Linked DNA regions of Homo sapiens: region 2 is linked to region 1. The links come from fine-mapping of genetic effects on gene expression. Tissue or cell type: lymphoblastoid cells. Region 1 holds a variant in brackets; the other region holds the start of a gene. All regions are shown on one strand. Distances are between the middles of the regions.

Region 1 (8,106 bases):
TCCCACAGTGGGGTACGTATTGAGCCACACCTACCAGATTTAGCTCTGTGGTAATACCCACATCTACAGGGGACTACTCTATCCTGGCAGAACTCCCATTGTCAGCCGATTGCCTCGGGCCTGATTCAACTCAGTTGGCTCCTTCTGCAGCTGACTTACCGGCTCTTAGGCCTCATGATCTCTCTTGGGTTTTGTGGTGGCTGAAACAACATGGTGCTGGACTTCTCTGGGATTAGGTCAAATTAGAATAAGAATAAAAGTCTATCTAATTAAGTGAAATGTTTGGGATGATATAAATTTCTTTTTAATGTTGTCTATTTTGTACTTAGAAGAAATCTCTAAACTTGTACCCATTACTGGAGATGGATGCACAGATCTGGAGAAAAACATTCTCTGAATGAAAAAATGGCAAGGAAAGTCAGCTCCATGTTTGCCCTCATTGTCTAGGGTTTGTAAATTTATCATGGTTGTTACTCAGTGGCAAGCCACGTAAGAGCCACGTTTCTATAACCCAACAGACTGGGAGTTGGAAGTGGAATGGATGTTCTTGTTGATACAGGCGTTGGTTCCACTCCCACATCCCTGTAAGCCTGGGGTGCGAGAAATGTCCCCTGGGCAGTGTTTCCATCTCACCATCTCTGGAGAGGCCTCTGCCGTGGCTCCAGGAGACAGGCCCTCCCCAGGGCTCCTTTTCCTTCACACGGTGGGCACAGCCACTGCTCACGGGCCCAGCACTGGGCTGAAGTGTGCTCTGGAGTTGCTACAATTACACCTTATTTGCTATCAGCTCTACATAGCAACCAGGTGCCATACTTCACCCGTTATTTTTCTGGAACACTGAGCAGGGAATAAAACCCAGTAGAAGAGCAAGATGAAGAGGATAAAGGGCTAAAGAAAAAGAAGCGGAGGAGGGGAAAACAAAAGCGGGAGAAACTAAACACGAAATGAGTCCTTGTCATTTAGCTGGGACTCATCCACTCTTTACAGTGCTGTTTTCCATGAAAAAATGTGTTCTAAGTTTCAAATAATGAAATTGGATATTTTCTACATAAAGTCAAACCTGCCAAAGGAGAAAATATTTAGCAAGCATTCAAGATAACAAGTTTTTGTTTTTTAAAAAAATCTAGGTAGAGTTTTCTACCAACACTGAACTGAATTATGTTTTTGTTTGTTTCTTTTATAGCTGGGATGGGATACCCAGAGATGCCCCAACATCACAATTTATCTTTGAATGGCTGGTCATTTTAGCAAGGTCACTGTTACAGAACACATCAAAAAAGGCAATCATTGTAGGAAATAGGACAACAATAGCTGCTTCTACCTCCATGCTAGTATTAGGGTCAAGATCATCACACTCTGATTCCTCGGAACTGTTCGTCTCCTTGATTGGCAGCATGAGGAAGGGGGAAGAAAGAGAACACAGTTAGAACACAAGTAGCTTTTGCTAGAGAGAGAGGAGAACTTCAGAGAAGCATGGGCGATGGGATCTTGGGCAGAGAAAAAACCAGGTGTTTTTAAAGTGGGGGTGAGAATCACCAGGGGCAGCAGCATGCTCTTTTCAGGGAGAGGAGGCGGGGGTTGTGTACAACTGCTTATCTCATGGGAAACAGCAATGGAAGCAAAATGAAGCATGAGTGTTGTCGAATTTAAACTGTTGTCTTCTGTGAGGCTGGACTTCCCAGATGAGAGTGAAGGAGAGTATACAATTTCTTTTCCCCAAGAAATCTCTTAGACTGGGTTTTAGTTGTTCTTACTTTGCTAAGGAAGGGAAACAAAGTTCCAGGTAGATGATCACACATTATAGCATAATTAGTGCTATAATAATCAGTGTCTAGTTTCCATTGTCCATTGGTCCATTGGCAGATCTTTCCAGAGGTTCCAATTTAAAGAAAGCAGATGACATTGTTTCAAGATGGGGGTAAATAAGAGTCTGCCAAGCTTAGAATTCATGAGTTCAAAGTAGTAGATGGATTATTTAAAGAAATAATTTGGGCTTCACCAATGTGCCCCCCTACTGTGTCCATGCAAGTAAAATGGCCTGAAGTTGATGTTGTCTGAACTCTGGGGAAAAGAAATGAAACTTTACTAAGGACACAGTGGCCCTTAAATTCCAAACCTCAGCCTTCACAGGGTTGGGGGTTTGGAAGGCATCCCTAATTGCTTTACCCTGTGTGTATTCTCAAACCTAGGGTACCAAATGGCAGCTTTGATAAATTTAATATGAATCAAGCATCTCACATTTTTAAGAGAATGCTGCAGATAATTTTGCTGTAAAACATCTGCACAGTATAAAGAGAAAGGTATAAAAGAAAAAAAAGGTACTTACTTGAATTGAAGTTGCCAGGAGAAATAAAAGATAAAAAATAAATTGATCTTGCATGCAAAATCCTGCTAAACTACTTCCCCTCTGGTACCCATACTGGGAAAAAAAAAAAATAACCCATCCACCCAAATTGGCTTGTGAGAATGCTGCAGGGTGGGAGTGGATGACAGGTGGGGACGCAGCTCCGGAATACCTTACTCACTTTAACAGAGACTTTGTTGCCCAGAATATCCTTGGGTTTACGAGGCCCTGTGGCTTCATTTTTACCCGTGTTCTCCACTTCCGCCCGCTTTCTCATGCGTAGAGTATGCCATGAACATGACTTCCTGTTGTACCAAAAAATGCACCAATCAAAATGGCAGGTCAGGGACAGCGATGTGGAGGGCGGGCTCACCACCCTTGGGTGAGTCAGCAGGTGAGGTGCTCCATCAAGCCCGGGCTTCAGAGGCCCCAAACCTGCACACCAGCTCCAAGGGTGGCTGGCGGCTGACCTCGCCTCCAACTGGAAGTGAGCAAGGATGAACTCTGACCTCCCCTGGTAGATGTGCAAGGTTGACTACGGCATTTAAAGAAAATATGAATGCTAGGTTACTAAACTCTAATAAGGGAGTTTGTATACCATACCCATGATGCCTCACAGGACTGAGGAATTCCTCTTGAGAAGGGCACGGTGGATGGGTGAGGAAAGGGGGCGAAGAGTAGAATAGGAAAGTCAAGGGAAGTATATTCTAGAATGCATATGCTACTGACACTTTCCCAGGACCAGACAGAAAGACCTAAAAGGATGACATTGAGAGTTCTACCTCATGATTTGTATTTGGGCAGGGCCACTCCCAAACAATGTTGATCAGACAGGATTTTCTGTGGCAGACATTTGCTTAATAAACAGTTGAGCACCACTCATTTACCTGGATATTTTAGGGCAAAGAGTTTCTCGGTCTATATTCTCCATATCACTCAGTGTTTGTGAATATATGGCTTTGTCAGCCTGTAGAGGTCCTAGAGCTTCCCTATTGGGACAAGA[A/C]CTAATGTGTGCTCCCAGGGAGGTGAGAGCAGCAATGGCTTTTCAATAGGCCTTTCATCCTAACTTCTTTCTTCCCACAAAGGGTCTTGGGAGCAACTTCTTCACAGACCTATGAAGACAAGCTCAGAGCAGAGCCCTTACATTCCATAAATATCAGATCTCAAAGACAGAGATACCAAAAGCCAAGTCACAAACAGCATCAGTGACCCTGAGCAGGCATCATCAGTTTCAGGTGAGGTCACAGAGCTTGAATGAAGTTCTAATTGTTGTCTGGAATAAGTAAGACGTGGCTTCCCCTCAGTATCTCCTTGTCAAAGGTGGGCCTATGCAGACAGGGCTCCATGAGATGAGCGTCCATTATGGGAGAGAGGCAGAGGAGATTTAGGAAAAGGAAGCTGCTGCAAAATACAGAGCATCCCTCCAGAACACTCCACATACATCAGGATTTTAAGGGTACTTTGAGGAAGGTGTTCCAAAAATATTTATCCGCTAACACACAGGTTCAACCTTCTGAGCAGGAAAGAGCAATCACAGTAATATTCTTGAATCTTGTGGGAAAGTGGGCTCCTTCAAAAACTCTTGTATCTCCTAACTAGTCAGGCTCTCTACTGTCCCCTGCATACCAGCACCTTGCTCCAACCGTTGTATAAGTGAGAACCAGCCATAGAAGCTAATCTTAGATGGCATCAGCCTGTTAACTTCAGACTTTGATAACTTTACTCCCAAACCCATGTCCCTGGCTCCTTCTGAGAACAACTTGAGTCAGGGAGATCCCTGCTGAAAGGACTCCCAGGGCAGGCAGCACGTTGTGTATGTGTGTGTCCTTGTGGGGGTGTGTTTCTACATTTATTAAATTCTCTGGGTTATTTAATATGCTTGGTGAAAAACTAGAAATATGAGCAATAACATTTCATGTTCAGAAGGAAGACTGAGAGTAGTATAAATGGCAGGGCAGGCTTGGTTTCATATTCTTCCCAGAAGAACTCGTCATCATGGTTTGGGGAGCTTCCATCTCTTGGTTGCAAGCCCAGGGACTGATGTGGACACAGGGTTTCAGTGACGTTTATCCTGTAGGCATCACAACCAACTCTGACCCCTGTGGTTATGGCAGGCCTTGGGGAGGGTGTGCTGAGTGTCCTCCACTGGTAAATGCTGACAACCTTTTTCAGTCCACTGCTCCCCTCCACACACACCCCCAACCCTTTTGCAAGAGCGGCTGACAAGAAATCAAAATGACCCATTTGTATTTCAATCTGCTCTCTTTTGCTCGGTCTGACATCCTTTTACCTTCCCTCCCATGGAAGGTATGGATAAGTGGCCAACAGAACCAAAGGTAGGGAGGAAGAAGTGTTTAGTGCCTGGATATTTAGAGGATAAATCATTAAGAGTTAGCTCTGCAAGTCCCCTGATTAGTAAAAACTTCAATGCTTTGAGGGCCTTTATCCCAAGGCTTACCTAAAAGGCACCCAAAACAAGTATACTTAGGATAAAATGCATGGGGGCTATTGTGCCTTAGGGGCCACTGTGGATTTTTGGCTGGGCCTGTGGTTACCTAGTGAGGCCAGGGTGATGTCAGTAGCTGCTATCCCCTGACCTAGAGGGCCAAAGCAGTGCAGTTATGCTGGTGCCACTGCTCAGATAGCTCATGGAAGCCCCCTGCACCACGTCTTCCATGGATTACTATGCAGCAGGGGAAAGCAGCGGAGAATGCCAGTCAAACACTGCCTTCTACTCTGGTCATTAATTGACATCAGCACCTCAGGGCTGCCCAGTTGCAGGGAACCAGTTGGACAGCATCAAATCTGTACCTTCCCTCATCTCAGAGGTTAGAGAAAATCAACAGGGGCTATTTAGGAGGGAAGGCCCGGGTCAGAACTTCAGCAACAAAAATACTTTTTATGTAGGAAAAAAAAATGCCAATGCATTCACCCAAATCCTAAAATACAGAAAAGGGAAAAAAAAAAAAAAAAAAAGAAGAAGAGGAGGAAAAGAAGAAGAATTGTTTGCACATTTGAAAGTCCAAGAATAGTGAAACAGGGGAAAAAGGGTCAACTAGTCTTTAACTTCATTAAAACATGCTCATGGTGAAAATTTATTTTACATATTTAAAATAGTACATTTAAACTGATTAGTTACATTACAGGTACAACGATGAGCACTGTGACGCCATCATATTGCACATCCTGACTTCATCCATATGGGTTTCTTTAAATAGTGCAAAATACTTTATACAGGAATGTGTTCGGAAGGGTCTTGCAACCAAAATAAGGAAAAGAAGTATCTTACAAATTACTATGAACATATATTCAAGTGACGGGGTGAAGGGAAATTTTTAAAAAGTTACAATCTGTACAGAGGAATTGCCACAGACAACCAAAAAGTTCCCTCCCTCCTGGGAAAAGCAGCGGGCCTCTGACCTTCACAGGTCTGGCATTTGTGCCAAGGTAATTTTTTGGTGTCAATCAAAAATATATATATATATATATATCAGTTACTTAATACAATATAAATAGAAGTCCAGTCCAGTGAGTCCTGTGGTGGGTCAAATGTGGCAACAGAAGGCACACCTTTTGTCACCTAGGGTTTCAGTAGGGTTCTTAATGAATGTGGGGGAGAAAGGGGGAAAAATGAACAGAAAATTATAAACCAAAAGGAAAGAAAAATCATCGCCACCACCAACTAAAAAACTGGATCACTCCAGCCCGGATGCCCCATGTTGCATATGGTGTCAGCACTCAAACACTGGTTCTGTGGTACTGTTGAGAATAAGCAGTAGTAATTCCCTACCATGTGTTTGCATTTTTGTGTTCTTTTGTTTGTTTCTGAATATTTTTAATCCTCATACTCCTCTCCCGGGGAAGCCAACGAGGCACTTACTTGATGCTCCCGTCACTACTTTCTGCTGCTGTGGCTTTGGTGAGGGGCGCCAGGATGCTGCCTGGGACCCAGCCCTCGGCGGCGGGGGAATGGTCGCTGGCAGGCTGGTACACCAGACACATGTTCTGCTGGTTGACGGCGAGGACCTGGACCACCTCACCTTGGCTCACACAGATTTCATTCTCCTTCAGTGCATAGTAATCTTTGATCACGGCCATGGACGAGGTCCCATTGCAGCCTCCCAGGTCGTTCTGCTGGGAGATAAGGGTGAGAGGGGCACAAACACAAGGACGCTAGTTCACATGGGCTTGCTCTGCACCCTACCCAGTGGTTCAAGGCCAAATCTCCCACTAGCAGGGTAGGCAGCAGGCAGCATTCTCTCTTGAGTAATGACATGATATTAATAAACATGCTCTGAAAGTATATTTTTTAATAGCAATGTTTCAACAATATTATCATCCAGGGTGAATGGCTCCACCCCACATAAAGGTATAAACACGCCTTTGACCTGGAAGCCCCTTCCCAGCATACAACCTTCCTGCCAGCGTTCTCTTACAAGTGAAAGGAAGAACCTGGCACTGGCATAGGGGTATGTAAGCACCTGGGCAGAATGAGGTCAGGGCAAGTGTCATGTCAGGGGTCACAATCCTTCAATGGAAAGAACACGGATTGTTTGATATTAAATTTTTCTCTTTTTGAAAGTGCGCTGGCTTTACTTTATATTCTGACCCTCTTTGAGACAGGACTAAGAATGATATCTCTGCCCAATTCAAAGGCAAGACCATGACCTACCCTTACCCAACTTCCTGCAGGCACCAGGTACCCTCCCCTACTCATTAATATAAGAGATGCTGCCCATGACCTTTTCATGTGAGTCTATTTCAGGGCAGCTGCCTCTAGACAGACTTGTAACTTTCCTAGGAGGACTGGCTGCCTCATAGAGCATGGTAAGAGCCAGAAATTCTTCAGTATATACATATATATTCTATATGCATATACATACAGGATATACATATATATTCTATATGCATATACATACAGGATATACATATATATTCTATATGCATATACATACAGGATATACATATATATTCTATATGTATATACATACAGGATATACATATATATTCTATATGTATATACATACAGGATATACATATATATTCTATATGTATATACATACAGGATATACATACAAATTCTTCAGTATATACTTTTTGTTTGTTTTTGAGACACGGTCTTGCTATGTCACCTAGGCTAGAGTGCAGTGGCAGAGTCATAGCTCACTGTAGCCTCGACTTCCCAGGCTCAAGTGATTCTCCTGCCTCAGTATCTGGGACAACAGGTGCATGCTACCGTGCCTGGCTAATTTTTTTTTTTTTTTAAAGTTTTATTAGAGATGAGTTCTTGCTATGTTGCCCAGGCTGGTCTTGAGCTCTTAAGCCCAAGCCATCACCCTGCCTTGGCCTCCCAAAGTGCTGGGATTACAGGCGTGAGCCAGCGCATCTGGCCCGATATGTTTGACAAAATGCCAAAGTGACTTCAGTTTATTCACAAAGGCAGGATTGTTTTTTAAGGTGGAAAATCATTTCCAGGTGATGTGACGGAACAAATCAGTGTGGTTACTCTAATACAGGATTGAACTTGGACACTAATAATTTTTTAATATAACCAATATAAACTAATAATTTTGAGGAGAAATAAAACTATAAAACTGGAACATGTAGATAAAAAATGTAAGTGTTCCTATTCATAGAGCCACTGAGTTCTAGAGAAAACTGAGGCCTAATGAGGTTAACTAACTCGGCTAAGGTTCTAAAGCAAGTGAGTTGCAGAACTGGGAATAGAAACCAGGTTTGCCTGATTCCTAATCTAGCACTTT
Region 2 (8,106 bases), 640 kb after region 1:
ACATGCCTAATTAGAAGCACAGTATGCCAGAATTTTGACAAAGCAATTTCCAGTTTGGTCCTTGTGCATACAAAATTTTCCATCAGAAAGAAAGGGGTAACCCTGGTGCTAGGGACTTTGAAAATTTGTTTGAAGCTTTCTCAGTTGTTCAATAGAATACATTTATAATCTATCCAGCCTATCAGGTATAGTGCTATATTCCACAGAGATGGGAAATCAGAAGGGAGAAGGTTTAGAAACATGGCTTTTCTAAGCTTAAGAATCTCCACCAACGCATATGCATATGTTCATTGCAGCACTGTTCACAATAGCAAAGACATGGAATCAACCTAAATGCCCATCAATGGCAGACTAGATAAAGAAAATGTGGTACATGTACATCATGGAATACTATGCAGCCATAAAAAAGAATAAGATCATGCCCTTTGCAGCAACATGGATGGAGGTGGAGGCTGTTATCTTAAGCAAACTAACGCAGGAACAAAAAACCAAATACTTCATGTTCTCACTTATAAGTGAGAGTTAAACAATGAAAACACATGGACACAAAGAGAGGAATAACAAACACCGGAGCCTACTTGAGGGTGGAAGGTGGGAGGACAGAGAAAATCAGAAAAAATACCTATCAGGTACTATGCTTATTACCAAGGTGATGAAATAATCTGTATACGAAACCCCTGTGACACACAGTTTATCTATATAACCCATACATGTACCCCTGAACCTAAAATAAAAATTAACAACAAAAAATAAAAATAAAAAGAAGAAGAAGAATCCCCAGCAAGAGCCTAGGCTAGAGACCAGAAGTGTGGTGACAGTCAGTGAGCCAAGCATAGAGGGCCACACAGGGTGGATGTAGTCCTTGACCTACCCCCTCTTGCAACATGTTACAGGTCATCAGTCATTTCCAGCCTCATGCACCAATGACTTAACCTTTCTCTGATACTAAGTGCACATCAGACTTAGCTCAGCCACTGGGCTGCCCAAGGAGGAGGGAGAATATCCCCAACATAGGAATCCCACAGGAGACTGACCCCAGTCTGCTATTTATTCTGTGATTTGAGCCAGGGTTAGATAATGTGTGCCACACCTTGTGTTTTGAAAGGCCCTGGGAAAAGTAACACATTGGACTATTATTGGCCATTAACACTGTGTGAATTTATTATCAGAAATAAGCAAGCCTCCAGGAACTGAGCTCTGCTACGGGTGCCTGGAACAGAAAATGAACAGGACCTAGTGTTTGGATGATAGGAAAGGGGAAAGAGGAGTGGGCACCAAAAGGTAAAAGTGGAGTCCAGAAAGGGAAGGTGGGAAGGCTCACACTTCAAGATTTTTCCCTCAGAGCTAAGAAAATGCAGACTTTTGCCCCAGTTGGGAGGCAAGGGGGGTCAGCTGGGTTTTTGATTGACTGGTCAATTTGTTTCTAGTCCCAGTTATGAATTCCCATATCTCCCCTCCTCTGCCTCATAATGAGTATTTCTGAATATCACTTAGCCCCCAGAACCACCTTTTCCCTAGATTCCACCTCTTTAGAATCCATGCTTTTGGGTGCTGGGCTGTGTGTGTATGAGAGAGAGAGAGAGAAGAAAGAAAATAGAATCCATGTCTCGGAAGAGGAAGGAGGGAAGGAAGGAGGAAGAAAGAAAAGGAAAGAAGGCTTAGACCTGGGAAGCAGAATAGAATGACAGGGCTCCCTCTGATTTCCCCAGACCCTGGCACCAGCTCCTGTCCTCCAGTTTTTTCCTCTGCACATCAACTAGAGAATGAACATATGAGCCAATCAAGTCTTGACTTCCAAAGCCACAAGTCTCCCCCGCAAAGCACCCCACCCCCTTCCCTAGAGATGACCTCCAGGGCAAGGTAACAGGGTTAGGAAACAGATGGATGTGCAGAGACCCTCCAGAGCTAACCTGACCCCTGACCCCCACCAGTTCATGTCCTCTAATCCAACTTTCCAGAAGGGAGAGCAGATGCATGGGGCCCCGGTAACTTACTGGACTCCTTGGGACAAAGATTCCAGACAAAACTGTTTCAGACATGTGGGGAGATGGGGAGCTACACACAGAAGCTGGTGGAAGCCACAGGTACAGGGAGACGGGGAATCCCTGGCCATCAGAGAAACAGGGCCACAGGTGGTGGAAGATAAGGGTGGTCAGTGCCGGTTCTAGGGAGGGACTGTGTAGCCAGGGAGCAGGAGGAGCAATGGACCCGGGACTTGGACGATGGCAGGGGCGCAAAGAGCTAGAAAGACATCTCAGGGCTCTACACCTCACAGCAAGCAGAGACTTAGTGGGTGTGTATGAGAGGGACGCTAACTCACACTTCCAGGAATGAGTAATTCTTATGAATAGCTCCTCCGTTCCCAGAACTGAAGAGGAGGACAAGGGGGAGGTCCGAGGCGCCCACCGCCCTCCCAGCTGGGTCTGCCTCTCAAGTCAGAGGGACCAGCTCCCCACACGCACCAGGCGAGACCGATGTCTTCCGCCCCACTCCTGTCAGTCTGCAGCCGGCGCGGCTCCGGGTCCCCGCCGCCCCTCTGTGCACATCAGGGCCCCGGGCCCCCGACGGCGAGGAGGGGTGCCGACCCAGGGCGGCCGCCGGGAGCCCCGCTGACAGGCACAGGGGAGGGGGAGCCAAGGGAGGGGCCGGGACGCCGGTAGCCGGAGCGGCGCGCTGCAAAGTGAGCCAACACCGCCCATCCCCGCGCTCTGGGAGAAGGCGGTCCGAGGGGACCGCCTCCCACCTCCCCAACACAGACTCCCGCAACTGGGGTGAAGGCGGAGGGGCGCGGAGTTCCCAGCCCCCACGCCCTCCCCAGACGCAGCCAGCACTGCCATAACAACCAGAATCTCGGCAACTCCAGCCCCGACGCCGAGGGGGCACTGCCCCCCAACACGCACGCGGCAGCAACAGCCCTCCTTCCCCAAACTTGTCCGAGACGCCGCGTCCGAGGCAGTAGCCTTCAGCCCTGGCCCCCCGCGCCCTGCCCGGCTTACCTGTCCGGAAAAAGGCGTCCACGTCCGAGTCTGCTGCTCCTCCTTCCTCCGCTGCTCCCTCAGGGGGGTTCATGACTGTGGGAGGGCGTCCGCGGGCAGCCGGGAGCCGAAGAAGCCTGGGGCCGAGGGCTGCTCGGCGCCCGGTGGGCGGAGGGCGCGGGGCGCAGCTGCTGCGGCCGCAGAGCTGGCGGCCGCGGAGCTTCGAGGGCGGGCGTTGGGCGGCGGGGCTGGGGCAGAGGACGCTGAGCCTCCCTCAGGCGGAGGCGCGCGGCGGGCTGGGGGTGCCTGCCGCCAGCTCCCCCATGGTACCCCTTCCCCAGGGCGCTGGCCGCCTGCTGTCTGGCTGGGGCCGGGGCCCGGGGCCGGGGTGCGGGCTGCCTGGGCGCCCGCTGTCCCCCAGCAGCGGCAGCTGGCTCTCCTGCTCGCCCGTCTGCCTGTCTCTATTGTTCAGCCCTGCTCCGCTCTCTCCTCTTTATTTTTCCTCCTCCCTCCCACCCTCCCTGTCTCCCTACCTCCTCCCTCCCTCGCTCACTCGCTCACTCGCTACCTCCCTCCTTCGCTCGCTCGCTCTCTAGCTCCCCCTCTGGCTCCCGCCGCCGCCGCCGCCGCAGCAGCCGCCTCCCCAGCTCCTCCCCCGGCTCCCGCTCCCTCAGTCCCGGCCAACAATGACCCCGGGAGCGCCGAGCTGAATTGAAGCTCCGGCCGGGGCCGAGGGCTCGCTGCGGGCCCCCGGCGGCGCCTACGCCCCCAGTCCCAGCGGCCCCGCGCCGGCCTCCCGGGGAGCGGAGCCCGAGTCCCGAGCTATTGTTCGAGGCTGTGCTAGGCCGGCTTCCTGAGCTCCGCAGGAAAAGCCCGGGCCAGGGAGGGGGCGGGGCCGCCGGGCGAGCCCGGGGCTGCAGGGCACACGCCAGGCTTGTCCAGGGGGCTCTGCGGCCCGGGCGCTGCGCGCTCAGCTTCTCCGCTCGCGCCGCCGGTGCTCCTCCCGGCCCCGCGGCCACCTCCTCCGTCCACTCCACTCCCAGGTGTGTGAGGGGACCACCAGGCTGCCCGCCCGCCTTCTCTGGATCTTCAGATCGGTCTCCAAGCTGGACTGACCTGTCCCTAGAGGCCGGCCTTTCTTCCCCTCCTTCCTGACGAGCTCTCTTCTGTCTCCCTGCCCTCCTGAGCCTCTCACATTTTCCTCACCAGCTCGCCACAGTTTCTCTCCTTTTTATCTTTTCTCGTCCTTTTCCCCTTTTCAGCGCCCCTTTAAACATCTCCGCCTGTCTCTGTGACTCTTTGTCCAGTTTAATGCTCCTGTGATGTCTCCCTGCCTATCTCTCCCTCCCTCCGTCACTCTCTTGTCCCTCGTTTGTCTCTGTCCTGCCTCCGTACTTGGCCCGTATCTCCGCGCTCCTCTTGGACAGCTGTCAAAACTCTCTAATCCCTGGGGCCTTCTCGGTTTTGTTCTCCCTCATGTGAATGGAGAGATCCAGTTGGCCAGGAGGAAGGAGGTGTTACAGCAAGCTGAATTTCAATTAAAGTGGGGAGAGGGGCTGGGGAGGAATGGGGATGGCTGCAAAAAAGAAAACAGATGCTGTATGGGGTAATTAATGCGGTGATTGTATTGTGCCCATCAGTTTTTAAGCAATAATTAAACAATAATTAGCCAGTAGTGTGTTTATGGTTCTAGTGACTACAGAGCCCACCAAACAGAGGGTCTTTAAGACCTGAGTACTTAATAAGGTCTGCTGAGCGCTGTTCGCTGTTGCCTCATCCAGACAGATGGAGAAGTGGTGGCCTGACCTAATGTGTTAAAACACGCCTAATAGGAAAACCAGGTACTGGTCTGAAGTTAATGACTGCAACCCATCAGACAGAATCTCCTGGATCTGTTTGTCTCTAGTAACCTGTTTGGTTCCACCTCTCTCTGGGGGCCAAGGCAACTGGGGCCTATGCAGATCCACCAACTGTGTAAACTTGTAGCAAATAAAATGAATTAAATTAGTTTTTAGTGAACACTTTCTGGCTCCCTGTACGCATCACGTTCTTCACTGACACAAACAGTCTAATTTTTTTTCACCCATTAAAAAAAAGTACCTGTTTCCAACCTTGGATACACCTATCAGACCTGTCTCCAACCTTGAGTACATCTATCAGACCTCTGTAGTGACTCTGACATCACAAGTTCACTGCCCTGAGATCTAATTCATCTGGCCCTAGTATCTTGAACTGGCTTAAGATGCCCCTTTGCCTATGCCTTTTCTGACAATGAAAATACTTCTCATTTGTCTTTTCAAAATCTTCCTTCCCCTTAATCCTTTGCCTAACCCCTGGTCTGCTCCCCTACCCCCGCACACACATATGTGATGGCAGAGCTGCTATTAATTAATTGCCACCATTGTGCAGCTAAAGAACCAGTGGCCTGGCAAGGCATTAGCTCATCACAATTCAGAAGAAACATTACATGTTTAGAGGAAGGGTCATATCAAAATCTCAAGATATAGACAAGAAAGGGGGAACACCTTATGTAATGACACAAACTTTTTTTGAGAGGAAATTTGGCAACTTCTATTAAAATGTTAAGTGTTCATGGCTATATTAATATCAAAGAAGACTTCAAAGCAAAGAATATTACCAGGGATAAAGAGGAACATTTCAATTCATCAAGCAGACGTAACAATCCTAAGAGTGTTTGCACCTAATAAGATAGCTTCAAAGTACATGAAGCAAAACTGATAGGATTGCAAGGAGAAATATAAAAATTTATAATTATAGTCAGATAATTTAATATCTGTAAAATGCAGTAATTAATAGAATAAGGAGACAGATCATCAGTAAAGATATGGAAGACTTGAACAATGTTATCAACCAACCTAACCTAACTGACATTTATAGAATATTCCACTCCATAACAGCAGATACACATTTTTTCAAATGCACAGGTAGCATTTGTCAAGATAAACCATACACTAAGCCATAAAACAAATCTCAATAAATTTAAAAGGATTAAAATCATGCAAAGAGGTACATAAATTATACCTAAGTTGGTTTTTAAAAAAAAATCAGAGTATGTTCTCTGACCACAATAGAATTAAACTAGAAATCAATAACAAAAAGAATCTAGAAAAACCTCCCAAATATTTGGAAAGTAAATAACACACTTCTAAATAACACATGAGCTACTAAGAATTCAAAGGATGGGCTGGGCACCATGGCTCATGCCTATAATTCTAACACTTTGTGAGGCTGAGGCCAGGGGATCACCTGAGGCCAGGAGTTCAAGACCAGACTGACCAACAGGGCAAAACCCATCTCTACTAAAAATACAAAAATTAGCCGGACATGGTAGCGTTTGCCTGCAATCCCAGCTACTCTGGTGGCTGAGGCATGAGAATCACTTGAACCCAGGAAGCAGAGGTTGCAGTGAGCCAAGATTGTGCCACTGCACTTTAGCCTGGGTGACACAGTGAGACTTTGTCCCCTGCCACCCCCACCAAAAAAAGAATTAAAAGGGGGATATTAGAAAGAATCTCAAAGTGAATAAAAATGAAAACACATTACATAAAAATCTGTGGGATGCAGCTAAGGCAGTCTAAATCTGTGGGATGCAGCTGAAGCAGAAAGACATTTATAGTGCTAAATACCTATTTTGAAAATAAAGATCTCCCATCAATAAGCTCCTATTCTACTGTAAGAGCAAACGAAATCAAAGTGGAAGAACAGAAATAAAAAAGATCAGAGCAGAAGGCAATAAAATAGCAGGAAAACAAAAGAAAAAAATCAATGAAACTAAAGTGGGTTCTTTAAGATCAATAAAATAAAAAAACCTCCACCCAGACTGATCAGAAAATAAGAGAAAAATCTCAAATTACTGCTAGCAGGAATGACAGAGGTAACATCACTACAAATTCTATAAATGTAAAAATAATAATAAGGGAATATTATGAACAACTTTATGCCAACAAATTTGACAACTTTCATAAGATGGACACAAACTACTAAAGTTCACTCAAGGAGAAATTGCTAACTTAAATAGCTATTTATCTACTATAGAAATTAAATTTGTAGCTTAAAAGCTTTCCCCACACACACCCACACACAAAACAACTCAAGATTCACATGGGTTTTTTGGTAAATTTATGAAACATTTAAGGAAGAAATAATATCAATTCCACAAAAACTCTTCCAGAAAAGTGAAAAGGAGGAAATATTTCCCAACTACTTCTATGAGGCCAGCATTACTCTGATGCCAAAACTAAACAAAGGCCATATAAGAAAAAAAATGTAGACTACTTCCTTAGGAATATTTATTAGGAATAAAATTTTTAATAAAATTTTAGCAAATAAAATCTACAATATATAAAAAGGATAATACATCATAACCAAGTGGGTTTATCCCACATATACAAGGTTGGTTTCACATTTGGAAAACTATTCAATGTAACTTACCACATGATATGGGTTGAATTGTATTCTCAAAAAAGGTATGTTAAAGTCCTAACCCCTGGTAGCTGTGAAAGTGGCCTTATTTGGAAATAAGGTGTTTGCAGATATAATCAAATTTGGAATGTGGTCACTAGGATGGACCCTAATCCAATATGACTGGTGTCCCGATAAGAAGAAAAAAAAATTCCATATGAAGACAGAGAAGACAGAGACACATAGGGAAAAATGCCATGTAATGGCAGAGGCAGAGATTGGAGTGACGCAGCAGCAAAGAATACCAAGAATTGACAGCCACCACCAGAAGCTAGAAAGAGGTAAAGAAAGATTCTCCCCAGAGTCTCAGAGGGAGCATGGCCATTCTAACACTTGATTTCAGACTTCTTCTCTTCAGAACTGTGACAGAATAAATGTCTATTATTTTAAGCTACCCAGTTTGCACTACTTCGTTACAGCAACCCTAGGAAACCAATATACCATATTTAAAAAGCAATACAAGTCCGAGTATGGTGGCTTACGCCCGTAATCCTAGCACTTTGGGAGACCAAGGTGGGCAAATCCCTTGATCCCAGGAGACTGAAACCAGCCTGGGCGACATGGCATAACCCATCTCTACAAAAAATACAAAAAGTAGCCGGACATGGTGGCATGAAAGTCAGATCATGTCTCAAAAAATAAAATAAAA

What was found. PIP is the estimated chance that this variant, and not a neighbour inherited with it, causes the effect.
Region 2: it holds the start of KALRN, and the variant in region 1 is fine-mapped to the expression of KALRN in lymphoblastoid cells (TwinsUK, PIP 0.91).

The regions. Positions count from the first base shown.
Region 1 is chr3:124,672,733-124,680,838 of GRCh38, reverse strand. KALRN (kalirin RhoGEF kinase) reads right to left here. Exons shown (of 60, transcript NM_001388419.1): 49 at 6,225-6,475; 50 at 2,526-2,649; 51 at 1,322-1,381. Among named protein-coding and RNA genes, the nearest start is that of UMPS, 54 kb to the left of the region's middle. The variant A/C (reference allele first, on the strand shown) is at 3,348.
Region 2 is chr3:124,028,704-124,036,809 of GRCh38, reverse strand. KALRN (kalirin RhoGEF kinase) reads right to left here and starts at 3,441. Exons shown (of 60, transcript NM_001388419.1): 1 at 2,997-3,441. The coding sequence starts at 3,069. RefSeq lists a silencer at 3,466-3,925.